Linked DNA regions of Homo sapiens. The protein of the gene in region 1 purifies or fractionates together with the protein of each later gene. This does not show direct contact. Each region holds a gene or a part of one and is shown in the gene's direction. Other genes may lie near its edges.

Region 1 (6,618 bases):
GAAAATTATTTTGTCTACATAACATTTTGGCCATGAGTTGACCCTGCCCATACCTTCCCATACATATATTGTTTCCTTTTGTATGTAACTCTAAAAGGAGGTACCCAAGCCATCTGTCCAGCCACAAATCTCCTCTTCTCCAATAAAGCCTCTTCCACTGGGCAGAATCAGGCAGCAGGCAGAGCAACCTGTGGTCCTGGGAACCACCAAAATCTGGGTTTGAGTCCTGATTCTGCCACTTATTAGCTGTGTGACCTATGGCAAATTGCTTGAGTTTCTATGTCTCAGTTTTCTCATCTGTAAAATGGGCATAGCAATACTCATGTTATAGAATTTTGAAAGGACTTAAATAAAAATAATTTGTGTAAAGTATTTAGCATATTCCCTTATATAAAAATTAGTCAATAAATTATAAATATAATTAGTCATTTCAAGTGAAAATGACAATCTGAGGATGTGATTTCACCCAAAATTTCAGACTTTATAAGATATGTCAGAGCTGAGTTAGAAGCTTTAGAGATTCCACATATCTAGATTAATTTTCTTCTTCTACTGTATATATAATATATACATACTATATATACTATATATATATAGTATATATGTATAACATATACATTTTTTTGAGACAGGGTCTTACTCTGTCACCTAGGCTGGAGTGCAGTGGCACAATTACAGCTCACTACAGCTTCTACCTCCTGGGCTCAAGTAATCCTCCCACCTTAGCCTCCTGAGTAGCTGGGACTACAGGCATGCACCACAACGCCCAACTAATTTTTTAAAAAACCTTTGTGTAGAGACAGGGTCTCACTATGTTGACCAGGCTGGTCTCAAACTCCTGGGCTCAAGCGATCCTCCCAACCCAGCCTCCCTAAGTGCTAAGATTACAGGCATGAGCCACCACTCCTGGCCCACAATATTTTTAAAAATTCTAGTTTCTGAAGTGATTGAAAATGTACATATGTTAAAATTCAAATAGCTTCTTTCTAATGATCTGATTACTACATTCAGGATGCATTGGTTGAAATGGAGCGCGTTTCTTTGTTTCTATGGTACCCCTCCTTTGCTGGTCATGTAAACACCTGTGTCATCTACTTTGTGGGTGGCTCAGCACTGGGACATGTTGAATATTCAAAATTAGGGTGGGCCAGGTGCAGTGGCTCACACCTGTAATCCCAGCACTTTGGGAGGCCGAGGCGAGTGGTTCACTTGTATTCAGGAACTCAAGACCGGCCTGGTCAGCATGGTGAAACCCCCTTTCTACTAAAAAATACAAAAATTAGCTGGGCATGGTGGCACATGCCTGTAATCCCAGCTGCTCAGGAGGCTGAGGTGGGAGAATCACTTGAACCCCGGAGGCAGAGGTTGCAGTGAGCCAAAATTGCGCCACTGCCCTCCAGGCTGGGCTACAGAGTGAGAATCCATCTAAAAAACAAAACAAAACAAAACAAAAATGAGGTGTGTGGAGACCTGAGGATTCTGGTTTTGTCCATCCCCCAAGGACTAACAGCTTTAAGGTGACCCTTTCTCCCATTTGCTCCTCAAAGATCGAAGCCGCGGTCAAGGCCGCCAGAGAAGCCTTTCCCAGCTGGTCATCCCGCAGCCCCCAGGAGCGCTCACGGGTCCTGAACCAGGTGGCGGATTTGCTGGAGCAGTCCCTGGAGGAGTTTGCCCAGGCCGAGTCTAAAGACCAAGGTGAGAGTTGCCTCTTAACTGTAACATGGGACTCAGGGCATCTCTGATTATTCATGTTATCCCTCTTGGGGCCATCAGGCCAGCCCATGTGCCTGCTCCTCTGGCAATAGTAGAAGTGGAGAGCAAACCCTCCCCTGCTCCAGGCCTGGGAAGGCCAGGACTTGTGGCTGGCCCAGCCCTGTCTCATTCAGATGGCCAGAGAAAGTCACATGGCTGGATCCAAAAGCTGAGGGGCAAAGAAATATACTCTGTTCATTGGATGAAAGGAAGTGCAAATATATACAGCAAAGGGCATGGATATAGGGAGAGATGAAGAACTAGGGCTGATCATGCAGTCTCCTACTCATTCTAAGCAGAGAATTTCAAAGCAAAGATAATTTGAAAAGCAGTTATGCAGTCAGATTATTTAGGATGTTTTCTGATATGTCAGTCACCATTCCACTCCCGACACATCTCATTTTTTTTTCCCACTCTTTCCCAGAGGTCAGAGTAATGGAGTAAATATTTGTAAATTTTTGCAAGAATATCTGTTAAGATAAGCCAAGAGTTTTAAAAATTACATGTGTGCCATAAACCAATCAAAAATCAGAAAGCAGCCTGAGTCCAAGCCCTTAAAAAGAAAATAGTTCTCTGCTGGTGTTCCTGGCCAGGCTCCCTGCATCGCTAAAGAGAACTCAGTAGCAGTCTAGGTAAGCTTCTGTTTCTCTTTCTGTTCCATCCAGGAGCTAGGACGTGCAGGGCATGTGATGGGCAAGCAGGTGCCACACAGCATCCCGTGCCAGGGCATTCCCAGCCGCTCTTCTGATGACTCTACCATGTGTGGGGAGGTCATGAAATACACATTACATGTGTATAAAAGTGTTTCGTTTTGTGCTGTGCAATTACAACTGTCCTAACACCCGTATTTCAATGCCTTTGTCGCAGGTACAAAGCCTGGTGATTTTGAATTGCAAGAGTTTGTGTGGGTGAAGTGGTAGCATCTGGCAAACTGGTGATGAGAATGATGTGTTCAGTTCACAGAACAAAGATTATTGACTCAATTTTAACCCCCCACCTCAGTTTCCAACCTTATACCTAAATATTGTATGGTTTTATCAAACCATGATCAAGTCTTTGTGAGGTCAAGGAATGCCTGCCCCGGGCTAGAAGGAATCCAGGCTGTTTCAGTGTGAGTTGGGACGCGTGGGCAGTGGAAGCTGATGGATAGAGTGTCCCCATTAGCTGATAGTGCTTTATGTTGTTTGCTTCTTACAGGGAAAACCTTAGCACTGGCAAGAACCATGGACATTCCCCGGTCTGTGCAGAACTTCAGGTTCTTCGCTTCCTCCAGCCTGCACCACACGTCAGAGTGCACGCAGATGGACCACCTGGGCTGCATGCACTACACGGTGCGGGCCCCGGTGGGAGTCGGTGAGTGCTGTTCAGTGAGAGCCCACCTCCCGGTTATGCTTGCAGATGCTCACAACATTCTATGGCATTGTCCTCAAGGAACAGGTTAAAGAAAAGGAAGAGCTGATATTTTTCTTTTCTAAAATCCATTGGCCTCAAAGATCTATTTCTAGTTTATTTTCTTTGTGTCAAATTCCCTGCTTTTCTTTTTAGACAGCGTCTTGCTCTGTCGCCCAGGCTGGAGTGCAGTGGCATGATCTCGGCTCACTGCAACCTCTGCTTCCCGGATTCTAGTGATTCTCTAGTCTCAGCCTCCTGAGTACCTGGGACCACAGGTGCGAGCTACCACACCGGCTAATTTTTGTGTTTTTAGTAGAAACAGGGTTTCACCCATGTTGGCCAGGCTGATCTCAAACTCCTGACCTCAAGTTATCCTCCCGCCTCGGCCTCCCCAAGTGCTGGGATTACAGGCGTGAGCCACCACGCCAGGCCTCATGTTCATGACTTATCTGGAAAATCATAGGGAAAAGAATGATGCTAAGAGTAAATATGTAAATTCACATGCCAGGATTTTTTTTTCTACTTATATTTAAAAAAGGAAAAATCAGGCTGGGCGCAGTGGCTCACGCCTGTAATCCCAGCACTTTGAGAGGCTGAGGCAGAAGGATCATCTGAGGTCAGGAATTCGATCAGCCTGGCCACCATGGTGAAACCCCGTCTCTACTAAAAATACAAAAATTCACCGGGCGCGGTGGCTCATGCCTGTAATACCAGCACTTTGGGAGGCCAAGATTGGCGGATCGCCTGAGGTCAGGAGTTCGAGACCAGCCTGGCCAACATGGCGAAACCCCATCTCTACTAAAAATACAAAAAGTTAGCTGGATGTGGTGGCGGGCACTTGTAATCCCAGCTACTTGGGAGGCTGAGGCAGGGAGAATTGCTTGAACCCAGGAGGCCGAGGTTGCAGTGAGCTGAGATTGTGCCATTGCACTCCAGCCTGGGCGACAAGAGTGAGACTCGGTCTCAAAAAAACAAAACAAAACAAAACAAAAAAACCCAGCCGGGCGTGGTGGCATGCATCTGTAGTCCCAGCTACTTGGGAGGCTGAGGCAGGAGAATCACTTGAACCTGGGAGTCGGAGGTTGCAGTGAGCTGAGATGGTGCCACTGCACTCCAGCCTGGGTGATAGATCGAGACTCTGTCTCAAAAGAAAAAAAAAAGAAAGAACTATTTATGTACATTAAATAAATTAATAAGTGTAGGGCATGTAGTATGGTGCCAGGTGTGTGATAAATAAGCCTCTACTGAGAATTATCTTACTTCATGCATTCCTTTGCCTCTTGACCTTTGGAAGAACGTATAAATAAATGTCTGTGATGACTAAAACCTTCCACCAGATGTCACTGTTTCCTCGGAGAAAAAAATCATCTTTTTAGCTTATTACATTTTATGAATATAAGCTAAAAGGAAAACAATTGGGACATCTCATTGCTTTGGTTACTTGAAACCTTCAGAAATTATGTTTTCAAGGCATTGTGGAAAGCTCTACCTCCTCCTAGGAAGTGTGCTAATATATTTTGCTGCAAAAATATTTTTATCCCCTAAAGAATGGATTTTTCAGTGGGAAATTTAATAATATAAAAGATGCATTTACTTTCATAGCACAGGCTTGAGGGAAGAGTATAAAATAAGGTGAATCAATTTCCTTTCAGAAGGTAGATTTTTATATTTGTTTGTTTTGTGATTGGAAACCTGGATAGGTTCAGAATATTGCATGGAGACACATTCTAGCTGCTGGTTACGTTACTCATCCAGCAAATCTATCTGGTCAGGATACAAGTGACAATCTAGAGAGAATTTTTATTTAAAAATATTCTAAATAGCCAAAATGGATGTCACAGTCCATGCACCAAAGGTTATTGGCTTTACTGATAGGAGGGCCCTCACATGGAACACTCAGAACTCATTGGCCCCTATTTTATGAATAATTATATAAAGCTTGAGATTTTATGTCTCAACCCATGACAGATTTGAAGTAAAGGTAAAGAAACATGTTAGAAGAAATAACAGCCAGACCGTTAAAATAATGGGGAAGGAGACATTTTTGAAAAAGTAAAGCTCAGTCTATAAATCTCAAAATGCGTCACATTCTGGAACTGTTTAGTGACAGGTGACAACTGTTTTTTTATTTTTTATTTTTTTTTGAAGTTCCAGGGTACACGTGCAGGACGTGCAGGTTTGTTACATAGGTAAACGTGTGCCATGGTGGTTTGCTGCACCTATCAACCCATCACCTAGCTATTAAGCCCAGCATGCATTTGCTCTTTATCCTAATGCTCTTCCCCCCGACTCTCCCCTGACAGGGCCTGCTGTGTGTTGTTCCTTTCCCTGTGTCCATGTGTTCTCATTGTTCAGCTCCCACTTATAAGTGAGAACATGCAGGTGTTTGGTTTTCTGTTTCTGTGTTACTTTGCTAAGGATAATGGCTTCCACCTTCATCCATGTGCCTGCAAAGGACATGATCTCGTTCCTTTTTATGGCTGCATTGTATTCCATTGTGTATATGTACCACATATTCTTATCCAATCCATTATTGATGAGCATTTGAGTTGATTCCATGTCTTTGCTATTGCTATTGTGAATAGCAAAGTGCTGCAATGAACATACGCGTGCATGTATCTTTATAATAGAATGATTTATATTTCTTTGGGTATATGATAGGTGACAACTCTTTAGCTCTGGAGTTTATATTGCTGTTGTTCATAATCATGAACTGCCAAGAAATGGGGAAATCATATTGACTTTACTCTGTTTTAAAAGATACAGTTGCTTGGAATATATTTTAGAATTATTTCCCTGAAAGTGGCTACAAATAAGCAAAGCTTGGGAAGAAGTTAGAAGAGTAAGCTAAGTTTTCTGCAGCATGAAGGAGTTTTGCGTTAATAACCCCACTTGGCCAGTCCACCTCAGAGGGGTATGCCGTCACAGGCAGTGCTTCTGCTCTCATCCCTTAGCTGGTCTGATCAGCCCCTGGAATTTGCCACTCTACTTGCTGACCTGGAAGATAGCTCCAGCGATGGCTGCAGGGAACACTGTGATAGCCAAGCCCAGTGAGCTGACTTCAGTGACTGCGTGGATGTTGTGCAAACTCCTGGATAAAGCAGGTAATTAGGTGTTGGGGTTGGGGGGCAGGCACAGAGTTGGAGCAAACCTATAGTTTATAGAAATCTTCCACTCAGCAGCACAATCGATTCCAGTGACATCATGGGCTTTGTCTTTCTGATCCTTGTCTGGGAAATCCCCTCCACCCACAGGGTTCCCTCACCCTGCTTCCTGTCTTCAACACCAGAACGGTGCTACTGCAGGCAAGTTCCACTCCCCAGGGTGGGCGACTGGCAGCACAATAGTGACGCAGACTTAAACAGCCCCATCAAATCAAAGACACCTGCCTGCTCCAGAGAGTCAATTAAAATCTTAAGTTGGGGCCAGGTGTGGTGGTTCACGCCTGTAATCCCAGCACTTTGGGAGGCTGAG
Region 2 (5,980 bases), on another chromosome or scaffold:
TTGCACGCATGAGCCACCATGGCTGGCCTTTTTTTTTCCATAGAGATATGGTCTTGCCATATTGTCCAGGCTGGTCTCAAACTCCTGGGCTCAAGTGATCCCCTGCCTCCTCCTCCCAAGGTACTAAGATTACAGGTGTGAGCCACCACACCCAGCCTGAAGCCTCTTTTATAAGGGCCTTAATCCCATTCAAGAGGAAGGAGCCTTAATGGTTAAGTTGAAACTTAACCATAAGTTTCAACACCAGAATTTTGGAGGGGACACATTCAAACCATAGCACAGACTGTCCAGGGCTGACCACAATCAGCTGTGGCCTATGGCAGAGCCCTGTGGACACCGGGTAACTGCCCATCCTAGACATTTACTCCATCCTTCTCACAGGTGCTGAAGTCCACAGGGGATGTGGCCGGAGGGCGGGCCCTGTACGAGGGGTATGCAACAGTCACTGATGCGCCCCCCGAGTGCTTCCTCACCCTCAGGGACACGGTGCTGCTGCGTAAGGAATCTCGGAAGCTCATTGTTCAGCCCAACACTCGCCTTGAAGGTAATGAGGTAATGAGGGAGCTCTTGAGCTCCCTTGATGAGCACCACACAGGGCCCTCTGGGAAGCAGTAAGAACCCATCCCAGGGCTCAATAAGAACCTAACCCAGCCTGGGATGGCCCTTCCCTTTCTGCCAAGGTCCTTCCCATGCCAAACCTCAGGCCCTTATCTTGGTATCTGTCACCACCCACCACCCCCCCGACACACACACAGTCATGCAAGTTGTAAGACAGTGACAGAAGATTTGAAGAAGACCACCAGAGCAGGGGATAGCAGAACATGCAGACTTAGGGGGAAGCCAGGCGTTCATACCAAAGAATTAGACCTGTTGGGTACCCAGGCTGGGGGTCAGGTGAGGAGGGAGCTGGGATCCAGCAAGCCTAGTGAAACCCAGGGGACAGTGGACTCGGTCACATCCAGGATGGTGATCAACAGCTGCATCATCCCGCTTCCTTCTCAAGCGACAATTCCAGAGCCTTGGCCACACGGTGCTTGTATCTTTCGTATTCAGACCCCCTGGGGTTCCAGCCCCTTACTGCCTTCACTTTCCTCTCACCCCTTGACTCATCTTTCCTGCTACTTGTCACTTGAGATACCTAAGATGATGTGTGTTATGGAGAGGTTAGAGCACCAGCTTCAGAACCACCCTGTGACTTTGGCCTAGTCACCTGACATTTCTAGACTTTGGTGTCTTCATTCATAAAGGCAGTGTGGACTGCTTGCTGATGTTATCGTGAACCTGAATTCCTTCTTAGAGTTTCTAAGTGCTTTCTGGGGATTAACCTTTTAAATCCTTGCAGTAGCCCAATAAGGTAGGTATTGTTGTTATCCCCATTTTACAGGTAAGGAAACTGAGGCACAGAGAGTAATTTGCACAAGGCTTATGGCTTTTTAGTGGAGGAGCCAAGAGTCAAATTAAGAGTGGTTGAGTCAGGCATGGTGGCCCCTGCCTATAGTCCCAGCTACTTGAAAGAGTGAGGTAGGAGGATTGCTTGAGCCCAGGAGTTCAATGCTACAGAGCAAGACCTCAACTCTTTAAAAAAAAAAAAAAAAAAAAAGCATTGTCCTGGGCAGTTGTGAGGGTTACATAGAATAATATTTGCAAAAAGTCACTACCTATTATTGGTGAGGAAAAAGCATTTATTTATTTGGTTTTTGGGTTGGTTTTGTTTTTGTTTTTGTTTTTGTTTTTTTTGAGACGGAGTCTCACTCTGTCGCCTAGGCTGGAGTGTAGTGACACAATCTCGGCTCATTGCAACCTCCGCCTCTGGGTTCAAGCGATTCTCCTGCCCCAGTCTCCCGAGTAGCTGGTATAACAGGCGCCCGCCACCACACCCAGCTAATTTTTGTATTTTTTTTAGTAGAGACGGGGTTTTACTATGTTGGCTAGGCTGGTCTCGAACTCCTGACCTCAAGTGATCTACCCACCTCAGCCTCCCAAAGTGCTGGGATTACAGGCGTGAGCCACCATACCCGGCTATTTTATTTTATTTATTTCTGAGACGGAGTTTCCCTCTTGTTGCCCAGGCTGGAGTGCAGTGGCTCGATCTTGGCCCACTGCAATCTCTGCCTCCCGGGTTCAAGCGATTCTCCTGCCTCAGCTTCCTGAGTAGCTGGGATTACAGGCGCGTGCCGCCATGCCCGGCTAATTTTTGTATTTTTAGTAGAGACAGGGTTTTGCCATGTTGGCCAGGCTGGTCTCGAACTCCTGACCTCAGGTGATCCACCCTCCTCGGCCTCCCAAAGTGCTGGGATTACAGGCGTGAGCCACCATGCCCAGCCGGAAAAAGCATTTATTAAGACGCTCATTCTAGATGCTTTTCCATGCTCTCCAGAGGCTTCCTGGGATTTGGCCCCAACCCTTGCCAGCCTCACCACCCCTTCTCTGGCTCACTGTACTCCAGTCTCCCGACCTTTCTGTTTCTTCTACCCACTGAGCTGGGTCCACTCCTACAGCCTTTGAATAAGCTGTTCTTGCTGCTTGGCATGATCTTCCTCCAGATCTTTGCCTGTCTGGTTCTTTTTGTCCTTCCGCTCCTTGTAAAACGGCACCCTGTGAGAGAGGTTGTCTCTGACCCCTCCACCTAAAGTAACTGCTTCGGTCCCTCTCTGTTCTGCTACCCAGTTTCATTTTCTTCTAGCGCCCATCACGCTTGCCCATTTTCTTGGTGGTCACTTCTCATGATGGGAGGAGCAGCATACCCCAGTGCCTCATGCACAGCCTGGCACACTGGAGTTGCTCAGTGACTGTCAAATGAGTGCATTAATAAATCATGCCAGCCACATGGACAATACTCTCAATTGCTTTGATATGTCCAGCCCTGTGCGAGCCATGGGGGAGCCACTAGGGATCCGGAGGTGATCACAGCTCACTGGGGATGATAAGATATGGAGATAAATAATCATACAAGGGGGCCGGGCGCGGTGACTCACACCTGTAATCCCAGCACTTTGGGAGGCTGAGGCAGGTGGATCACAAGGTCAGGAGATCGAGACCGTCCTGGCTAACACGGTGAAACCCCGTCTCTACTAAAAATACAAAAAATTAGCCAGGCATGGTTGCAGGCGCCTGTAGTCCCAGCTACTCAGGAGACTGAGGCAGGAGAATGACCTGAACCCGGGAGGCGGAGCTTGCAGTGAGCCAAGATTGCGTCACTGCACTCCAGCCTGGGTGACAGAGCGAGACTCCATCTAAAAAAAAAAATAATAATAATAATCATCATCATAATCATACAAGGGAAGTGTTAATGAGTGGCCAAAACATATAAACAGAACTCTGAACACTTAGAGGAGGGAAGATCGCATCCATCTTCAAGAGTATCCGGGAACGTTCTGGGGAGGAAGGGGTGGTTCCCACTAGATCTGAAGAACAGGTTGGATTTTCAAAGGTTGTGATGGTGGTGCACTGTAAAAAGTTTTTTTTTTTTTTTTTGAGGTGGAGTCTCACTCTGTCCCGCAGGCAGTGGTGAGATCTCGGCTCACTGCAACCTCCACCTCCGGAGTCAAATGATTCTCCGGCCTCAGCCTCCCAAAAAGCTGGGATTAGAGGCACCCACCACCATGCCCAGCTAATTTTGTATTTTTAGTAGAGATGGGGTTTCACCATGTTGGCCAGGCTAATCTCGAACTCCTGACCTCAAGTGATCCACCCGCCTCAGCCTCCCAAAGTGCTGGCATTACAGGTGTGAGCCACCACACCCAGCCAGGTCGCTGTAAAAGCTTTCTATGGCTTAACTCCTAACAACCCAGAGAGAAATGGTTATTATCCTCATTTTTCATCTGGAAAATGAGGCACAGAGGGGCTGTGTATTTGCCTGCGGTCACAAAGCTGTTGGGTGGCAGAGCCAGAACTTGAACTCCAGAGCTTGTGCTCTTTGCTGCTGTGCAGCTTGTGATGTCATGGAACACGACAAGGTGCACAGAGAGGGTAGAGCAGTTGAAGTGTGTTTGAGGGCAGTGCTTCCCGGGGGTATTCAGGGGACCCTCAGAACAGCCCATTTAATAAATCAGTAAACAGGTTCGGAGATAATGATGCCATGGTGGCTAGCATTTGTTGAGCACCCCCTCGATGTGTGACTATGTCATCACTGCAGCTCCTTTACAGATGAGGAGACTGAAGCTTGGGAGGTTGCAACACTTGCCCCAGGTCCCACAGTAGACAGATGAAGTCGTTGCTGAATTGTGAGCTTCAGGACACCAAGGACTGTATCTGTTTCACCTAGTGTGGCACCTGGTGTCTTTTATTATTTATTTATTTATTTATTTATTTTGAGGTGGAATCTCACTGTCACCCAGGCTGGAGTGCAGTGGCACGATCTCTGCTCACCGCAACCTCTGCCACCCGGGTTCAAGCAATTCTCCAGCCTCAGCCTCCCGAGTAGCTGGGACTACAGGCTCATGCCACCACGCCCAGCTAATTTTTTTGTATGTTTAGTATAAACAGTGTTTCATCATGTTGGCCAAGCTGGTCTCAAACTCCTGACCTCAGGTGATCCTCCCACCTCAGCCTACCAAGGTGCTAGGATTACAGGCATGAGCCACCATGCCCAGCCTAAATCTTTATTTGATTGACTGAATGAACGAAAGCAGCAATGCATTTAATACTCCCCCTGTAGTATTTCCTTCCTCACAGGGTTACTGTAAAGAGTAAATTAAGTAATTAACCTAAAACGTAGAGCACAGGTTTTTTTGGCAGAGCTCAGTAAGAAACAGCTGCTGCTGTAATTGTGATTATTAAGATTTTTATGATGATTCAGTTTCCCTATTCAGACCTTTCCCTGCTGTTTTCTCTCCATCTCCTCCCCAGGCTCAGACGTGCAGCTTCTGGAATACGAGGCGTCAGCTGCTGGCCTCATCCGATCCTTCTCTGAGCGTTTCCCAGAGGATGGACCCGAGTTGGAGGAGATCCTCACACAGCTGGCCACAGCCGATGCCCGATTCTGGAAGGGCCCCAGTGAGGCCCCATCTGGCCAAGCTTGAGGAAGATGTGTGGCCTTGCCCCCAATTCCATCAGACCAAGGCTGCAAGTGGCCCTCCATTCGTGTGTGTATTTAGGGGCTGGGGAGGGGGAGGGGCAGGAGCTTGGACCTTGGTACTACCTCAGCTGAGGGTGGTGACACAACCCCTTCCATTTGTCAGCACTTTCCAGCCTGCCAATTGCTTCCCCTCTGTGATCTCATTTCATCTGCACTGCCATACGTGGAGTGAGCAAGACAGGGCTTACCATCCTGTCTACCAGATGAGGAAATGGCAGTTCTGAGAAGTCACTGGTCTAGATCCCGCAGGTGGCACGTGACAGCTAGGGTTCAAAACGTTCTCACCAAATCCAATGCTCCTCACATATTAATTTTATAACCAGACAAATAAATATTAGAGACAACCACCATCTTTGCGGCGTGTGTGGCTCCTCCTTGCCTTTGCCTGTCTTCTCATTTACTCCCAGCAGAGTGATGGGCTCAAGGCCTGGGGAGGGGGCAAGGAGGGCCATTTTTAGCCTCCCTTCCACAACAGGATGTTGACATTATCTCTAGATGAGGATACGCAGTCACAGAGCTGAACATAGCACAATTTTTGCAGCTCTCCTTTGTGGCATTCCTTGCATTTTTAAATGTTCTGGGGCCGGGCACGGTGGCTCATGCCTGTAATCCCAGCACTTTGGGAGGCCGAGGCGAGGGGATCACGAGGTCAGGAGTTCGAGACCGGCTTGGCCAATATGGTGAAACCTCGTCTCTACTAAAAAATAAAGTAGCTGGGCATGGTGGCATGCGCCTGTAATCCCAGCTACTCGGGAGGCTGAGGCAGGAGAATCCCTGGAACCCGGGAGGCGGAGGTTGCGGTGAGCCGAAATCGCGCTACTGCGCTCCAGCGCAAGCGACAGAGCGAGACTACGTCTCAAAAAAAAAAAAAAAAAAAAAAAGTTCTGGGAACCTACAAACTCA
Region 3 (6,391 bases), on another chromosome or scaffold:
CACACAGATGGAATGTCAGTGCTGGGGTATCTGGGGAGGAGCTCTGAGAGGAGGAGGCTGAGGGTCCTGAAGCCCCTGCCCCGTGTCCCTGACACAGGCTGGGCTGCGAGAGTGGGAGCGGGGGACTTGGGGCCCTTGTGGAGCTGACAGGTGGCTCCGATATCATCACCCTGAGGCTGGTGGGGTTCTTTCCCCTGTGCTGCGTGGGGGTGCGGGGCCATCTGTGAGGCTCAAGGACTGAGCGGGGACCCAGGGAGGTCTCAGGGACTCGCAGCTGCCATGCCCAGCACCACTGCTGCAGCTCCTGCCACTGGCCACTCCTTGCCCTGCTGGCTGCCCCTGCCCCACCATCCCAAGTGTTTGCCTTTGGTGAGGGCTCTGCACCCGTGGTGGAAGAGTCGGCTGTTCCAGGAGATGAGAAAGACGCTGGATCCTATAGAGCTGTGTGTCCGCGCTCTCGAGGCATGCTCCATGCTAGGAGGATGTATTCTGGTTAAAGATTCGTCTGCGGGAGCAGAGGAAGGGCAGGGACAGGGGTCTGGGAGCTCTACTCCATTTGACATTGCTGCCCGGGTGTGGCCCGCTTCGGGGTCAGGGGGCACCCTTAGAACCTGTGCAGGGCAGGAACTGCCACCATCTGTTGGCCACACATTTCTCAGTGAACAAATGACTTTTGGCATCAGAAAGCCATAACTTCACACCTAAACTTCCACGAGGCTGAGCTCTTCCTGCCCCTCTGTGTGTGTACGTGTGTGTGTGTGTGTATTGAGGGGACGCGGCTGCTGGCCACCTTCTGTCGGCACAGGTTGGCGAGGCTTCATGACTGCCCAGCCCATGCAGTCCAAGAGTCCCACAGCCCAGCCCATGCCCAGGCTCATCCACTGCGGCGGGTGGCCTCTGCCAGGGGAGGCTAGGAAACCCCAGTGGTGAGCCTTGGCCTTGGGATCTGCCAGGACTGTACCCGGGATGGCAGGGAGGGCGAGCTTTGGTCCCTGCAACTTGGAGCCATCTCTCTCTCTCCTGCTGTCTGTGGGTCTGAGAACCCCCAGCTCGTCCTCCCCCCTCCCCAAACCTATGACCTACAACTGGAGCCTCTGCCCACTTCTCCCTCCAGGGTTTCAAAGACAACCTCCACGCTGTGTTCTGCTTGGCTGAGAACTCGGTGGGGCCCAATGCGACAAGGCCAGATGACATCCACCTGCTGTACTCAGGGAAGTACGTCTGGCCCTCCCACTCCTTCCTGCCCACTGTTGGAACTCGCGACCCTTCCCGGCCTGCAATGCCAGCTCACTCCAGGCATATCGGGAGGGCACTCAGCGTTGGGGTCCCCTGGGCAGCAGGCTCCTTGCTTCCCGGAGGGCTGGGGAGCTTTGGTAGCAGGCGCACCTCACGTTGAGGGGCCCATGGCACCTGGATGAGGTGCTAGGCTCCCGTGCAGTGCCTGGCCCAGGAGCTCGTGGTCTACCCTGCATTACCAGGACAGGTCTTTCCAAAATTTAGGCCTGAAATCTTTGGGTGTGTGAAGCTCTGACCCCCAGATTCCCTGCTCGGGGACACCTCCTGCATCTCCCCCTTGAGATTGACCCTGGAAAGTCAAAGCTGAGCTGGCAGCTGAGGAGCAAGTGGCTCCAGAATTCAAAAGAGAAGAGCCCTCTCCCCAGCCCCATGAGCTGGTGCCTGAGTGGGCGCCTCCCCGCATCTCCTGCTCTTCCTCCCCATCTGCCGGGTGCCAGGCACAGTGTGCTGAAGGCCAGCCCAGCCGGTTCATGCCACCCACTTTACAGAAGAAGAAACTGAGGCATGGGAGAGCCAAATGGCTGGTCTCTGGCTCTCCAGAGCAGCGGGGCAGGGATGTCACCTGGAAGCCCTTTGCTCCAGGCACTGCATTGCTGTAGGGACTGGGGGCATCCCGGCCTTCCCATTCAGGGAACGTGTTGGGGTTCGGGGAGCCACAGGGATGGGCAGCTCCAAATGGGGTCTCCCCAGTTTCAAAGGGGCTCATGCCAGTGTCCCAGGAAATCCCGTCCCTGAGCGGGGATCTCTACCATGCCCCAGGACGGTGGAAATCAACAACACGGATGCCGAGGGCAGGCTGGTGCTGGCAGATGGCGTGTCCTATGCTTGCAAGGACCTGGGGGCCGACATCATCCTGGACATGGCCACCCTGACCGGGGCTCAGGTGAGTGCTCCCTGGATCCACCCCTTAGCTGTAGTCCCAGGGAACCCCACCCCACTCTTGACCTCAAGGTGGGGAAGGCAGCGCGTGGGGGCTGCCGTCAGGAAGTTTTCATAACTGGGCACGAGGAGGCAGGAGGAGCTGCCCGTCAAGCTTGGTGTGGGCAGTACCGAGGCCCAGGCTGGATGCAGAGCCGGGAACCGCCTCCTGTGTGCTTCATGGCCATGGTCCTTTCTGCCTGTGTTTTTTCTTTTTTTCTCAACCGTCTCTTTTCTGGCTCCCTTATTTCTCTGTCTGCCTCCCGGTCCCTCTTTTGCCTTGGGTGTTTCTCTCCTGCCGTCCCGTCCACACGCTTCCCGGGTTCCTGCCCGCCCAGGGCATTGCCACAGGGAAGTACCACGCCGCGGTGCTCACCAACAGCGCTGAGTGGGAGGCCGCCTGTGTGAAGGCGGGCAGGAAGTGTGGGGACCTGGTGCACCCGCTGGTCTACTGCCCCGAGCTGCACTTCAGCGAGTTCACCTCAGCTGTGGCGGACATGAAGAACTCAGTGGCGGTAGGTTTGGAGCCTCGAACCTGGAGCCTGCCACATGGGTGGAGCCGGGCAGGCGGAGCCCTGCCTTCAGGGTGCTGGTGCACCCAGGGAGCTGGGGCCCCCCAGAAGCAGCCACAGTGCAGACGAGGGCTTGAGAGGCAGGCGTCAGGGCACAGGAGTCATCCCAGACAGCGTGGGCCACTCACTGGCTTCCCTGCCACACAGCCAAGGGTTTCTCCCCCAGTCTTGGGTCTGGCTCAGTTGCCCCATCAGGCCCTTTGCTGGCTTCCCCCTTGGCCTATGGTGGGGGCAGACTCCTTAGCTCATGGTCAAGGCCCTCCCAGCCCAGCTTCTGCTGCCTCCCCACACGCTCCCTCCCAGCCACCCCGAGCTCCTTGCAGACAGCAATAGTGACAGGCGATGGGGCAGGGTGGAGAGGGCCCGGCCGGAGCAACCCACAGGCACTGTGTCCTCCTGGCCTCCCTAGGACCGAGACAACAGCCCCAGCTCCTGTGCTGGCCTCTTCATCGCCTCACACATCGGCTTCGACTGGCCCGGAGTCTGGGTCCACCTGGACATTGCTGCACCGGTGCATGCTGTGAGTGTCTCCCCTCCCCACTGGCCCTGGCTGCTCCCGCCCGCTTGTCCAAACAGCGCCCCTCTGGCTCTGGAGCTGCTGGCAGAGCTCATCAGAAACTTCTGTCTGTGACCCAGCTTCCAGCCCGCTGTCCCCACCACCCCCAGGTCTCATCCTCCCTGGGAACAGAGTGGCTGCTGTGTGCGACCCTTCCCCAGCCAGCCTGTCCTCCATAGGGGATCCTGGGCCCTGTCTCACCCATCCCCACCCTGAGGAGCTCCCGGGGTGAAGGCAGAGCACACAGGGCCTTGCCCCCTGCCTACGCCTGGCCTGCCAGCCCTGAACGTGTCCAGCCAGCAGCATGGAAGGCTCTGGGCTCCGGCTGGTGCTCAGGATCTCCTTCCTGAGAAGGGGACTGTGGGGCACGTGGAGGGGACCCAGGAGGTGAGGGGTCCCCAGGAACCCCTCCTGTGCTGCAGCCCCACGCCCAGAGTCTGTGTCCTGCCCTTTGCTTGCAGGGTGAGCGAGCCACAGGCTTCGGTGTGGCCCTCCTGCTGGCGCTCTTCGGCCGTGCCTCTGAGGACCCTCTGCTGAACCTGGTGTCCCCACTGGGCTGTGAGGTGGATGTCGAGGAGGGGGACCTGGGGAGGGACTCCAAGAGACGCAGGCTTGTGTGAGCCTCCTGCCTCGGCCCTGACAAACGGGGATCTTTTACCTCACTTTGCACTGATTAATTTTAAGCAATTGAAAGATTGCCCTTCATATGGGTTTTGGTTTGTCTTTCTGGTCGTCAGCGTGGTGGTGGAAACAGCTGAAGTTTTAGGAGACAGCTTAGGGTTTGGTGCGGGCCACGGGGAGGGGACCGGGAAGCGCTGGGGCTTGTTTCTGTTTGTTACTTACAGGACTGAGACATCTTCTGTAAACTGCTACCCCTGGGGCCTTCTGCACCCCGGGGTGAGGCCTCCTGCCTGCCTGGTGCCCTGTCCCAGCCCCAGGTCCTGTGCAGGGCACCTGCGTGGCTGACAGCCAGGCTCTTACTCCAGCCGGGGCTGCCAGCGCATCCAGCCAGCCCAGCCCTGTGAAAGATGGAGCTGACTTGCTGCAGGGGACCTGATTTATAGGGCAAGAGAAGTCACACTCCGGCCTCTCAGAATTCACTTGAGGTTCAATTAAATACAGTCACACCGCCCCCTCACCTGGCCTCGTTCTTCTTTCTCCCCCTCCATTTTAGAAACGGGTCCTGGAGCCCATCTAGGGAATGTAGTGCAGGGCTGCCTCCTGCTTCTCCCAGACCGGCTCTGGCTTTGAGCCCCAGCTGGTCAACCCAGTGTTGATGACAGGAGCCCAGGACCTGGGGAGGACAGGGGGCCGCTGGGCCTAGGCCTGGCCTTCCTGACCATTTTGATTTTCTGGGTGCACACAGCACAGACTCCAGGTGGAAGTGCTGTGGGCTCCTGAACTCTCTACAGCCCGGCAGCCTGCACGGAGGCCGTTCTGTCTCTCGAGGGTCCTGGAGCCTGCGCTGTGTGAGGTCGACTGTGCTTCCGTGCCCCTGGGCACTGTCCTAGGTGATAAAGGGCAGGGCCCCGAAGCCAATTCGGATCTCCCGGGAGCCCCGCCAGGATTCAGGGAACCCCTGAACCTGGGCTCCAGGAAAAGCAGGTGAGGCGGGTCCAAGGCACCCAGGAGCCAGGCTCCCACTGGCTTGGGTGACAGTACAGGCCAGGACCTTGTCCCTGCCATACATCCCCTTTGCTGTCAGTCGCAGCAGGGCTGCCTGGGGCCCCCCAGGAAGGGATTGGGTCTGAGGCCCCACAGGGAAGGGGACAGTGCCCACCTCTCTTCAGCTAGGGCCGAGGGTGAGGACCTGGCTGCAGATCTGTGGGACACGTGGCCCTAGGCTGTGTCCTGAGCCCCTGGCCACCCCACCCCAAGGGTCCCCAGAATCCATGTGCCCCCACAGCCCTGGAAATCAAGGTGACTTTCTGGGCCTGATCGCAAGCAAATATTTATTAACTGCCTGCTGTGTACACAGCCCCGGCTGGGCCTGAAAAGGCAAGAACTGGCTCCAAGGTCCTGGCCCTGTCTGAGGAAACTGTCACCCAACACAATGACAGCAATTGTGGGCAGCAGCCGGGGAGACGGAGCCGGAGCTCCTGAGCAGGGGCGGCTGCAGCCGGGGTTAGGAGCCTTCACGGGTCATTAGCTTGCTTAATGGTGCTGCAGTAGGCCCCGCTTGCCGGCCTCCCCTGAGACACCCAGAAGAGGCAGAGGTCCTGAGGTGGCTGGCTCCTTCTCCAGGGCAGCTGGCACCGTCTGCTCCTGCTACCAGGGGTGCGCCCGCATGGACACAGGATGCAGGGTCAGGGAGCAGGGGAGGAACTGAGTCTCCCTTGTGCAGGCACAAAGGCGGCCTCAGGACCAGGGACCCAGCTGGGCACCAGCTGCTGGCTGGCCTGGCCTGCCTGCCGGCGTCGGGGGGCCCACGGGGGTGAGCCAGAGGCCTGGCTTTCCCTGGGGCCAAAGGGCTCTAGGAGGCAACGGCTGCTTCCCCAGGCCCCACCAGAGCCCTGGCAACAGGGTCATGGGGCGGCTGGCGGTGCTGGGGGGCAGGTGGGTGCTCTGGGTCCACTTGATCATGGTTTCCGGGGAGCAGTGCAGGAAGACGAGCTTGGTGCAGAGCCCCCACAGGCAGGCTAGCGCACAGCCCCAAGGAAGTGCTCCCAGATGAACTTGGCCGAGAGCATCACCATGGCCACGCCAAGTAGGCGGGGCTAGGACCCCACCCACACCCCCTCCCTGGAATCCCAGGGCCCACCTGGGTGATGTTATCCCAGAGACAGGGACAAGAGATGAGAGGATGGAAATGTCTCTGGGAAAAAGGCTGCAGGAGCTGGAGGTGATGAGCAGAGCAGGCGAAGGAAAGGGAGGCCCCTCCTCCCTCCATGTTAGAGAAGGGAGCCCTAGATCTGGCCACCAGCGGCCTGTGCACACCTGGGGCTGAGGGCACACAGGGCTGCACATACACACTCAAGGCCACTGTGAGAACAGGTGAGCAGGGCCAGAGGGCTATGGAAAGCCCGGCTGAAGGCTGCACCTCCAGGCT
Region 4 (3,500 bases), on another chromosome or scaffold:
TAAAGCCAATTTGTTCACATGATAATCTGAACCTTTTTATGTGATCTTTACAATTGTTTAAAAAACATTTCTTCCCAAATAATACAAAGGTGAATGTTCCAAGTTAACAGATTCAGTTTGACTCAATTAAATTTATAGATAAGGACCTTAGGAACTCACTTGTTAGGAATAAGAAACAGGGATTGGACTACGGTAGAACTAATAGTGCCCAATTAAAACTTTGAGGGAAAGTGACAATGGTTTCTATGGATTGTTTTTTTTAAGTCGCTTATGAAAATCTCAGACTCCTAACTGGCAATTTAAAGCATTTGATGGTAAGTAAAAATGTGATTTTTATTACCTTCTCTCCTACTGAATAACATCTATCTTAAAAACTGATTTGGGAGGCTGAGAAATTGGAAACAGCATCGTAGTATCAACATCCAAGACCTAAATCATTACTTGGAATAAAACATGTAGACTATTTGGCCAGTAATAGTGATTAACAGCAAAAGTAATCTAAATTTAGTAAAAATAAACATTTATTTTTGAGATTAAAAAGAACCAAATTTTTTAGAAGTTCCTAAGAGTAAAATTTTTCAGTGTTAATATATTCGCTTAGCAAATTTTTCAAGTAGGCATTTTTATTACTTAAATCCATTAAAAATTTCATTAATTGGCCATTCAATTGAATTCCTATTAAGGCACTATGCTAAAATGCTGTAAGTAATATTAAGATGGCTAAACCTTATTTCTTGTCCTTAAAGACACATACATGCCTTCAAAAAGTTTGTTGTGATTGACCATTGTGTTTTTTATAATCGTACATTTTCTTTTATATATACCTACTTTGGGAGCCTCGGTCCCGTTGTAAGTCTGTACAAGTAGAGTTTTATTAGCTCTGTATAACATTTCTTGGGTAACTATGACTTATAAATTAGGGGTGCTTTTGCTCCATTCAGGGGTAGAAGAATGGTTAATGTTTTTACTAAAAAGTTGTATTAATGATTGCTGCCTCAGGAATATTTTTGTAAACTCCTCAAAAGCTACAACTATTAGCACAACTTTAATTTTGTCAAAGTTTTCAACTTCATATGCTTTTGTCTTCATATTACAAAATCTAAAGTTTGAAACACGAACCAGGCTGGGTGCATTAGCTCACGCCTATAATCCCAGCACTTTGGAAGGCTGAGGCAGGCAGATCACTTGAGCCCAGGAGTTGGAGACCAGCCTAGGCAACATGGTGAAACTATGTCTCTATAGAAAATACAAAAATTAGCTGGGCATGGTGACACACCCCTATAGTCCCACCTACTCAGGAGGCTGAGGTGGGAGGACTGCTTAAACCCAGGAGGCAGAGGTTGCAGTGAGCCAACATCGTACCACTGCACTCCAGCCTGGGTGACAGACCTTGTCTCTAAATAAATAAATAATAGCCAAGTTCTTTTTTTTTTTTTTAATTATTTTGTAATTTGGAGATTTAATTAACCTAGGTCTGAGTTGTTGCCTAGCCATCTGTTCTTTTTTCCAATGTACTTCTCTTAAGCTTGTCACATAAACTACTTGGGTTCTAGTCTCTTAGTCTGTAGAAATGAGCCTATGCTATAATATCAAAAGAAATTTTTAGTTTTTTCAGTAATGCCTCAGTTTTCCAAAGGTGTCTGATTCAATATCCACAACTAGGGTGAAGGTGGTGGAGAGCAGCAAGGAAGCTACCTCTAACCAACCAGAAATAGATATCAAGAAGTCCAGCTACTAACAAGTTACTCTTTCTGTTTTATTTTAGAAAGATACTAACCTTGGTGGTTTAGTTCCTTGGCCTCTGGTAGCTTACAAAGATCAAATTAGAGTAAAATGTATTGGAGGAAGATAAAGAACACTAATTTATAGTATAGTATAATAAAAGATATAGAAAATAAAAAGATGATCAAGATAAAAACTTAAACCTCAGTAATTTTAGGCCATTTAATTTTTATGCAAACACTCATATTTGCTGTAAGAATCACTGAAACCCTCCTTCATAGTAATTACAAGTAAAAATAAAGAGAAGAATAATTGAGGCCTTACTAGGACAACAAAACTTTGTTATAGCTATGTACTGTTTGAGTTTTCTGTAGTTGATGCTTGCTAAAATTTGGATTACATTTGAATAAGGATAAAGGGCATCATACCTATTCATTCCTCTTAGATTTCTAAGCTGTATTTCAGTAAATTGATTCTCAAAGAGTGGTATAACTGGATCATAATATCCTTGTTTGCCACTCAAGAAAGTGTTCCATAACTTAAGATAACAGTGGTGGGAAAAATCATTTAAGACCTTGTTTCATATGCTTTAAGATACAAGAAATAGAGATAACACTGGGAACATATGAAACTTTGTCAGCATCAGATAATAGTGTTGTAGCGACTTGAAACATTTTTTGTCTGTGATTGTGCCAGTCACTATTTGTGACTTGGATTGAACCTTGATATGACTTTAAATTCAGGTTGATGTTTTAAAATTATTTCTGAAATATATTGAGCTTATTGCCCTAAATTAAAACTATATTCTGTAATTTTACATGAGTTATGTAAGTTTTCTGAAGAAATAAGGAGGAATCCTTTAGGCACAGACTGTCAATCTACAGATTACATAGGAGATGGCACAAATGGAAAAAGAAGGAAGAAAGGAAATGGTAGCAAGTGGTAGGGCAGGCAAAGGACATCAAAGAACAGAGCAACAAGAAAAGTCCCAGGTTGTCATTGTAATACCACAGTAGTCTTAATAGTCAAAGGACAAGTAAAGGCCTGTTAATAGCCTGTTGATTCAATAATGCTAATCTGATAATATGGTAACTGGTTTAAAAAAAAGCAATACGGTATAATAATCTTAAGACTGCTGTAATCCCAGCACTTTGGGAGGCCCAGACGGGCGGATCACGAGGTCAGGAGATCGAGACCATCCTGGCTAACACGGTGAAACCCCGTCTCTACTAAAAAATACAAAAATTAGCCGGGCATGGTGGCGCGTGCCTGTAGTCCCAGCTACACAGGAGGCTGAGGCAGGAGAATGGCGTGAACCCGGGAGGCGGAGCTTGCAGTGAGTCGAGATCGCGCCACTGCACTCCAGCCTGGGCGACAGAGCGAAACTCCGTCTCAAAAAAAAAAAAAAAAAAAAAAAAAAAGACTGAATGTTATACAGGAGTTGAGATGTAACTATTTTGCTTTGTAAATATCCTGCCTTTAAAAAAAAAAATGCTCAACTCTATTAGAGGAAATCATAGCTGTATCTTTCATTTTATTTGGAGAGAGAGGAACAAACAACCAAAAATGAGCAACCATTGTTATTTACCCAAAGCTAAGCTGTTTCTTAATAGCTGTACTCTATCTCTTCAGTAAGTAATTTGCCAGGAGAAATACAATGTTTTTAAGGAATATTTTTGTCAGCGTAAACTGTTAAACACTGAATCCCAACTTTTAGCTATCTGAAAAATGTATACTTAAATAATACATTATGGCCATTTGACTCAAATGTAAGTTCT
Region 5 (7,405 bases), on another chromosome or scaffold:
GCAAAAGGTGATAAAAGAATAGGAGTCACTTTGAACAGGAAAAAATCTATAGTTTTAGTTCTCATGCTAACAAAAATAACAATAATGGCTAACACAAAAGTCTAGCTCTGTACAATCACACACTAACTCTTGATTTTTTTGAATGTGTGATGAAAAAGAAATATAGCTTTTAGGATTTAAGAATTAAAAAAAAAAAGTAAATGGAATTGAGGCCAGATGCAGCTGGGTGCAACGGCTCATGCCTATAATCCCAGCACTTTGGGAGGCTGAAGTGGGAGGATCACTTGAGCTCAAGAGTTCAAGACCAGCCTGGGCAACATAGCAAGATCCCATTTCTACTAAAAATACAAAAATTAGCTGGGCATGCTAGCACACGCCTGTAGTGCCAGCTACTCAGGAGGCTGAGGCAGTAGGATCACTTGAGCCCAGGAGTTTGAGGTTGTAATGAACTATGATTGCGCCATTGCACTCCAGCCTGGGTGACAGAGTAAGACCCTATCTTAAATAAATAAATAAATAAAATTGAAATATGTGAAATTTGGACATTTGCTAATATGAATGTGAGACTGAAAGGCTTGTCTGTACTTGTTGTATTGTACTCTGCAGTTAGAACTTAAGATAACAAAGTCAAGATGGAACAGTGGCACAGGGCTATAAGTTTCCGGTACTTGGTTCAGTTCCCATGATCCAAAGTCTGGTCCTCAGAGTACACATTCAGAAACTCAATTCTGTAAGGTGAGTATCATGCTCAGAGATGGTAAGTCTTTGGGAAAATGTATCATCTCAGCTACACTCACCAGAGACTAAAGCATTTTTAACCTAAGTTCTGATTTATTAAATAACAATGGAGCCTATTATTTTCCAAAATGTCACTAGATAAGAATAGAATCAAAATAAAGGGAATTTTGAAAAATGTTTATCTAGGCCAGTGGTTCTTAACTAGGGGCAATTTTGCAGCCCTCCTCTACACCAACCCCTCCTTCCATGGACATTTGGCAATGTCTAGAGACGTTTTGGGTATCTAAGCTTGTTAGGGGTACCACTGGCATCTAGCTAGTGGAGGCCAGGGATGTTACGAAACATCCTACAATGCACAGGGTAGGCCTCCACGACAAAGAATCATCTGGCCCCAAATGTCAACAGTGCCGAGGTTGAGAAACCCTGTTCTAGTCTGTGGAAAAGCCACAAGGACACTTCTCAAGTAGCATATTTGATACCCAAGAGATTATATTATTTTCTATGTATGGTGTCTTTTCTAGTCTCTCTAAAACTATCTTTGCTATGGATTGAATGTTTGTGTTCCCCAGAATTCAAACATTGAACCCTAAATCCTTAACGTGATGGTATTTGGAGATGGAGACTTTGGAAGATAATTACACCATGATGGTGGAGTCCATGTGAATGGGACTAGTGCCCTTACAATAAGATGAAGGAACCAGAGCTCTCCTCACCCCACCCACCAAGTGAGACTACAGCAAGAAGGTATTCCTCTGCAAACGAGGAAAAGGGCTCTCAGCAGGAACAGATTTCATCAGCACCTTGATCTTGGACTTCCCAGACTTTTAGAATGGTGAGGAATAAATTTCTGTTAAGCTGGAACTGACTAAAACAATCTCTTTTCTTACAGGCTTCAAGTATATTTGACTTTTTCTCATTTTTATTGCATCCCTTTATTGCCTCCTTAAGATTATATTCCTACTCATTTTAGTTCAAACCAAGAGTCCTATATCCTCTCAGCCACACATTTACACATAATTTTTGGACTATTTCTTTGTGTACTTAATATTCATCCATTTTTATTGGTAGTGCCATTTTTTAAAATGTCAACCTTAATTTCTGATTTCAGCCTTCTTTGCTTCCATGTCCAAATAATAATGATAATTATATATATTCTTAATATTTTTAAGCAATCGACTTTTGTGGATCTATTAACATTTTATTTATGCTGGGTAAAAGAAATTTTAGTTCTGCTTATTCTCACATTGTATTCACACAAGAACCCTTTAGTAAAGAACTTCACACTTACAGTTCTTTGGCTAGTCTGCACCTCACAGCAGTCCACTTATTAGGCAAATATATCATTTAATCAATTATTTCTCTTTGTTCAAACATCAGTTATAAAGAACTTGCAATTTAGGTATTTATTCTGTTTCAGTTTTGAAACTGAAGAAAATCCCCTTTTCAATGATTTATACTTAAAGATAGTAAAAAGAAAGTTTAAAACAATTTACTTCAATGCTTTCTCAAAATAAAAACATTATTTTGATGAAACATTATTTTCAGTCTAAGTTCCAATTGATCCACAGGTTCAGTCCACAGGTTAATTTAGTCCAAAGATCACTATGGCAAAATGGGCCTGAGCCACACAATAGATTCTGGCAGGTAATCTCTTGTGTGGCAGCTCATCCATACTTAAGTCAGCTCCCATAGCTACACAATTTGCAGGGCCCAATTCCAGACACAAACGTGGGGCCCTGGTTCAACACTTACTGAGAGAAAATGTAGCGTCCTTCTGTTCTGGGGGCCGGGTAATAGCACAGGTTGCAGGCCCATGAGGCCAGCCCCAACTATCAGATTGTGTATTTACAATGTCAGTCTAACCGTTGCTGAAAAATACTTAGCTCTGTTGTAATCAGATTTAATTTCTCAAGAGGCAAAGTACACTCAACAGTTTGCTTAAATCAGAGAGACCAAAAGGAAAGATTTGCTGTAAATTATCAACTAGCAAATCTTAGTCAGTTCAACTTAATTTTTATTGAGGGAAGAAGGGAGAAAACAGAAAACTGATGGAGTTCCCACTGCGTGTCGGCCACTGGAGATTTCAAAGGTTTCTTGTTTAACTCAAGCTACCAAGTAGGTGACGTGGATAGTCTTGGGACAGAGGAGTTGAGGGAGTTGAAATTAGGCCCTAGTTTCTACATAAGTGACACGGAAACCCTCTGCACGAGTTAAGCGAAGCTACATCTCAAGTTTATTAATGCCTCGGGTTCTTGCTGCTGGCTCTGGGAAGAGTCTGAGCACGCACAGCAGACTGATCCCCGACAAGGTGACAGGGACTAACCTAACGCCCTCCTCGTTGGTCCTAGTAACCACACAGAGCAGAAACGCGGGCGAAGGCAGGAGTTGGAGGGGGCGCCCACGCGGAGGCTGCCGGGAAGTGCAATGTGCAAAGGCGGCGGGGCCATGGAGACTGAACTGGAGAAGAGCGGGTTCTCGGAGTTAAAAGCGAGAGTGAGTGGGACCGGAGGGGCGGGGCATCATATGGGCGGGGCTGAGGCGAGGCCCCGGCGGCCATCTTGAGCCCCGCCTTTTACTTCGGCCCGCTTCTTCTGGTCACTCCGCCACCGTAGGTAAGACTGGGTTCGGGTAGAGGCCTGGACGTTGTCAGCCTTCCTGCGGCTGCGGCACGGCTAGGCGTGATCGGGGCGGACGCCGAGTCCTGCGGTGCAGGTATCCGCAGGCACGAGCGCAGAGACGGCGACCCTGGGCCTTGGGCGCCACCATCCATGACAGGAGGCCAAGGACCTTTTCCCGTGACCCGGAGCCTCGCCTCTAATCCCTTTTCCTTCTCTGAGCCTCCAACCTAGTGTAACCCGGGGCGAGCGCCCGTTTACCTACTGCCCGCTACATTTGTACAGCTTTTTCCTGTTCAGAAAGACTTTCCTAGACCCGCAGCCACCGCGCGAAAATGTGAAGTAGATGTGTACGCATTTTAAGGAGGGAGCTGGCCTCAACGCGTTACTAGCGGCCGCCGGCGCCTGGTTCGGGGGAGTGTGGACCTGCTGCTCTAGGCAGCGTCCGCGTCGGGGCACGAGCCAATGGCGCGGTCAGGAGCACTCACCTGATGGTGCCGAGGGGAGCACGTGTCTTTGGAGTTTGACAAAATCTGTTCGGGTCGTAAAATGCTCTCAGAGCGCTGTGGGGGACTGGAAGTCATTTCTGATGGGGTCATTAGGGAAATGGGATTGAGCGCACCTGGAAGGAGAGGGCATTCAGGTTGCAGGAAAAATAATAGCTCATGTTTGTGTGTGTGGTAGAAGCAGCATTTTAAGCACTACGTGAATTAACTCATTTAATTCCCAGAGCAACCCTATCAAATTGATATATATTACTGTATACCCATTTTGCAGATGGGCAAATGAGGCATAGATTAGCTTGCCCAGTGTCATGTAGTAATAAGTGGTGAAGTCAGGGTTTGAACCCGGAGGGTCTGGCCCCAAAACCTGCTCTGAAACCATTGTACCGTGGCATTGAGTAAAGCCACCCGATAGCAACATCCAGGCCATCCTAGAATTATGCATAGTTGAGTTTAACTAACAAAATAGGGAGTGAGACCAGAAAAATAATCTGGGACCAAATTATAGACCATATTTAGAGCCATGTGAAGGTGTTTGGCGTTTATAGATGCTATATTTTTTTTAAAAAATTTTCCCCAGAGTTTAATAGAAATCCTTACCTAGGCAAGCCATGTGAATTTTTATGAAGGAAAAGAGACCCAGCCTAGGCAGCATGGCAAAACCTCCTCTACAAAAAATTACCTGGGCATGGTGGTGCCACCTGTGGTCCCAACTACTCCAGAGGCTGAGGCGGGAGGATCACCTGAGCCCGGGGGCCGAGATGATTGCAGTGAGCCGAGATCAGGCCACTGCACTCCAATCTGGGCCACAGAGTTTGACCCTGTCTCAAAAAAAAAAAAAAGAAGAAAAAAAAGACTGTGTTTGCACACAGGTAGAGTGTGACTGAAGTTTATATGGAGTTTTATTCATCTATTTTTTCAGTGATCCTGCATGGTTTTAATTTTATGAAATTTTAATGGCATTAAACTTGAAGAAAATTGTACAATTAACATGGTCTTCCATTTCAGTGACTTTCTGGTTCTCAGCGACTGGCCTAACAGCGAAAGGGATTAGTAGTCTCCACCTGCAGCAGCCAGGGGGTGATGAGGCAGTTCTCATCTGCTCATTATTGTGAGCTGGCGAACTGCGTTTTTACATATGACTAATGGATACTTAACACTACTGAAATACACACTTAGGAATGGTTAAGATAGTAAATATTATGTATGTGTTTTTATCACAGTTTTTAAAATACTAAATAAAAATGACTAACAATTCCACGTAGGCCGTATTAGGCTGCAGATGAGCTGTTGGTAGGGATCCGTTGACCAGTAAATTAAGTGGATTAAAACCCTAGGCTTTCATGCAGGATTGATCGTAGTGGGATGTATTAGGAAGAAAGGAAGAGGCTAAGTTTTAATTTCTTATATATAATTAGGATGATGGCAGTGGGAATTCAAAAAGAAGGTAACTTTGAGGCATCTCAAATGTAGATTAGGCAAGACAGGCATGAGTCTGAAAAAGAGAGGCAATGAAAAGAGGAATGGTTTGAAGGTGAGATGCAGAAGCTTAATTTTAGGTGTGGTAAGTTTTAATAGCTGGTGACATGTCTTGGTAGAAGAGTCCAGCAAGAAATGTCATTATGGGTACTAATGCTTGAGAAAGATTGGTTATAGAGATGCAGATTTAGATTATTTCACCCAGAAAATGTAGTTGAAATTTAGGGAATGAGGTTTAGGGAAAGAGTGTGAAGAAAAAAGAAAAGGGAGGTGGGAGGAGACAGAGTGAAAGGGAAGAAGCCAGATCCTGAGTTTTCACTGAGAAGAGGATTTGAACAACACAGTGGTGGTCAACAGCAGTTATTGGAACTGTAGATTGTTGGTTTTGGGAACACCTGTCTAGGTTGTTAAGAGCCAGTGGAATAGGACATCCTGGAAATGAAGAAACATCAAAATCCAAGGAATCTGAGAGAATGGGAACAAAAAAACACATGTAGAGATTTATGGAAAACTTGAGACACAGGGGAAGAAGGATAAAAATAGAACTCAGATTTCTGGAGGTGGATGACATTTAACTTTAATAAGTAAAGGGCCCTGTCTCTACAAAAAATTAAAAAAAAAAATATTCCAGTGTGGTACGCACCTGTAGTCCTAGCTGCTCAGGAGGCTGAGGTAGGAGAACACTTGAAGCTTGGAGTTCTAGGTTACACTGAGTCATGATTATGCAACTGTACTACAACCTGGGCCACACAGCCAAGACCCCATCTCCAAAAAATAAAAAATAAAGGGAAGAACAGTAAGGTTTGACCTTTAGGGGAATGGATGTATTATGCACTGAGAGACCCTTTCTTCTCCAAAGAATGTTGATGTTCACTAACATTTGGGAAAAATTGTGTAACTCCCACTGGCACTGTGAAATTGTTTTTCTGTTTTTGTTGTTGTTGTTGTTGTTGTTGTTTTTTGGAGGGGAAGGAGGAAGGGTGTTGTTTGGTTTTTTGGTATTCCACCCTACTCTGTCACCCTATTTCTCCCACAAAATCTGTTCTAGAACCTAAATATATATTTGTTCTAGAGCCTAAATGAAATCTACCAGATAAGTGACATGATATATACTATGTAAGTTTCCATATATATTTTTCTTACTGAATATCAGTCACTTCATCGTTCATAAGCCCACTTTTCTTATACATCCTTTCTAGTCACCCTAGTAGTAGTCCTTCAGTCCTCATCTCTTCCCTTCTTTCTCCCCATGTTACAAGTTCGACTTACAACTGAGCCAGATAGATCCATCTTCCTCTACTTACCTAGTCCCCACTCTTATTTTCTTCACTCAGGAGTTGACTACATCTCATGCTTCGAAATTACACTTGAAAACTTTGTTTATTGATTTAAAAAGATAAAAAACTTTCATAGTACTTTTACTTCAGCAGATGGTTTTGACCAAGTACCAACAAGCTTTATGGCAAAATAGGTATTAAGGTGGCCTGTGGCAAATAATTAGATTATGGGCAATTAAGGTAATTAAGTGGTGATGTGGTATCCCATCAGGGTGTACAGTCATTTACCTCAAAAGAAGAAAACATCTCTATTGAGAATGCATATGCATATAAAAGCTCTGTATAACCTTTGCTGTGAAAAGTATATCCCATTTGTAAACCATTGGTGTTTTTTTCAGAATCGCCTACCATTTGGTGCAAGCAAAAAGCAATCAGCAATTGGACAGGTAAACTTGTTTTATTGTTTATATGTTACTCTGAACATTGAATGAAAATACCACTAATAGCTTGTTTTAAAACGTGCTATTTTTCACATAGAAAAATTCTATTGAAAAATATAACCACCTATTATAATGTATCAGATATCATAGTATATCACAGTATGTCATATCTAGTTCTTAGTTTATGTCATATTTCTTGTTAAGCCTAACATATTTTTTTGATTTGTAATTAAAGATAGTTTCTAAAATGGTGGGTAGAAAAAATACTTTAAAAGCTTTGTTTTTTAAAAAATATTCTACCAACTTTTAAAAAGTGTTTTAATCTTGTTTCTTCTGGCCAAATGAAAAGCATT

The links.
Region 2: the proteins of ALDH8A1 (region 1) and DPP3 fractionate together in Homo sapiens (co-fractionation; one large-scale study listed by BioGRID). This does not show direct contact.
Region 3: the proteins of ALDH8A1 (region 1) and NPEPL1 fractionate together in Homo sapiens (co-fractionation; one large-scale study listed by BioGRID). This does not show direct contact.
Region 4: the proteins of ALDH8A1 (region 1) and SMC4 purify together in Homo sapiens (affinity purification with mass spectrometry, with the first as the bait; one large-scale study listed by BioGRID). This does not show direct contact.
Region 5: the proteins of ALDH8A1 (region 1) and ESD fractionate together in Homo sapiens (co-fractionation; one large-scale study listed by BioGRID). This does not show direct contact.

Annotation. Positions count from the first base shown.
Region 1 is NC_000006.12:134,938,896-134,945,513, reverse strand, and holds part of ALDH8A1 (2-aminomuconic semialdehyde dehydrogenase), read left to right. Parts: intron 1-1,547; coding exon 1,548-1,695; intron 1,696-2,949; coding exon 2,950-3,105; intron 3,106-6,098; coding exon 6,099-6,248; intron 6,249-6,618. UniProt on the Homo sapiens protein: Catalyzes the NAD-dependent oxidation of 2-aminomuconic semialdehyde of the kynurenine metabolic pathway in L-tryptophan degradation.
Region 2 is NC_000011.10:66,504,231-66,510,210, forward strand, and holds the end of DPP3 (dipeptidyl peptidase 3), read left to right. Parts: intron 1-381; coding exon 382-544; intron 545-4,848; coding exon 4,849-5,021; 3' UTR 5,022-5,427; downstream 5,428-5,980. UniProt on the Homo sapiens protein: Cleaves and degrades bioactive peptides, including angiotensin, Leu-enkephalin and Met-enkephalin. Also cleaves Arg-Arg-beta-naphthylamide (in vitro).
Region 3 is NC_000020.11:58,711,365-58,717,755, forward strand, and holds the end of NPEPL1 (probable aminopeptidase NPEPL1), read left to right. Parts: intron 1-1,114; coding exon 1,115-1,215; intron 1,216-2,055; coding exon 2,056-2,179; intron 2,180-2,552; coding exon 2,553-2,729; intron 2,730-3,195; coding exon 3,196-3,306; intron 3,307-3,803; coding exon 3,804-3,962; 3' UTR 3,963-4,480; downstream 4,481-6,391. Other genes in the region: uncharacterized protein LOC124904942, read left to right, coding at 6,231-6,391. UniProt on the Homo sapiens protein: Probably catalyzes the removal of unsubstituted N-terminal amino acids from various peptides.
Region 4 is NC_000003.12:160,406,150-160,409,649, forward strand, and holds part of SMC4 (structural maintenance of chromosomes protein 4), read left to right. Parts: intron 1-3,500. UniProt on the Homo sapiens protein: Central component of the condensin complex, a complex required for conversion of interphase chromatin into mitotic-like condense chromosomes.
Region 5 is NC_000013.11:46,793,050-46,800,454, reverse strand, and holds the start of ESD (S-formylglutathione hydrolase), read left to right. Parts: upstream 1-3,293; 5' UTR 3,294-3,350; intron 3,351-7,010; 5' UTR 7,011-7,058; intron 7,059-7,405.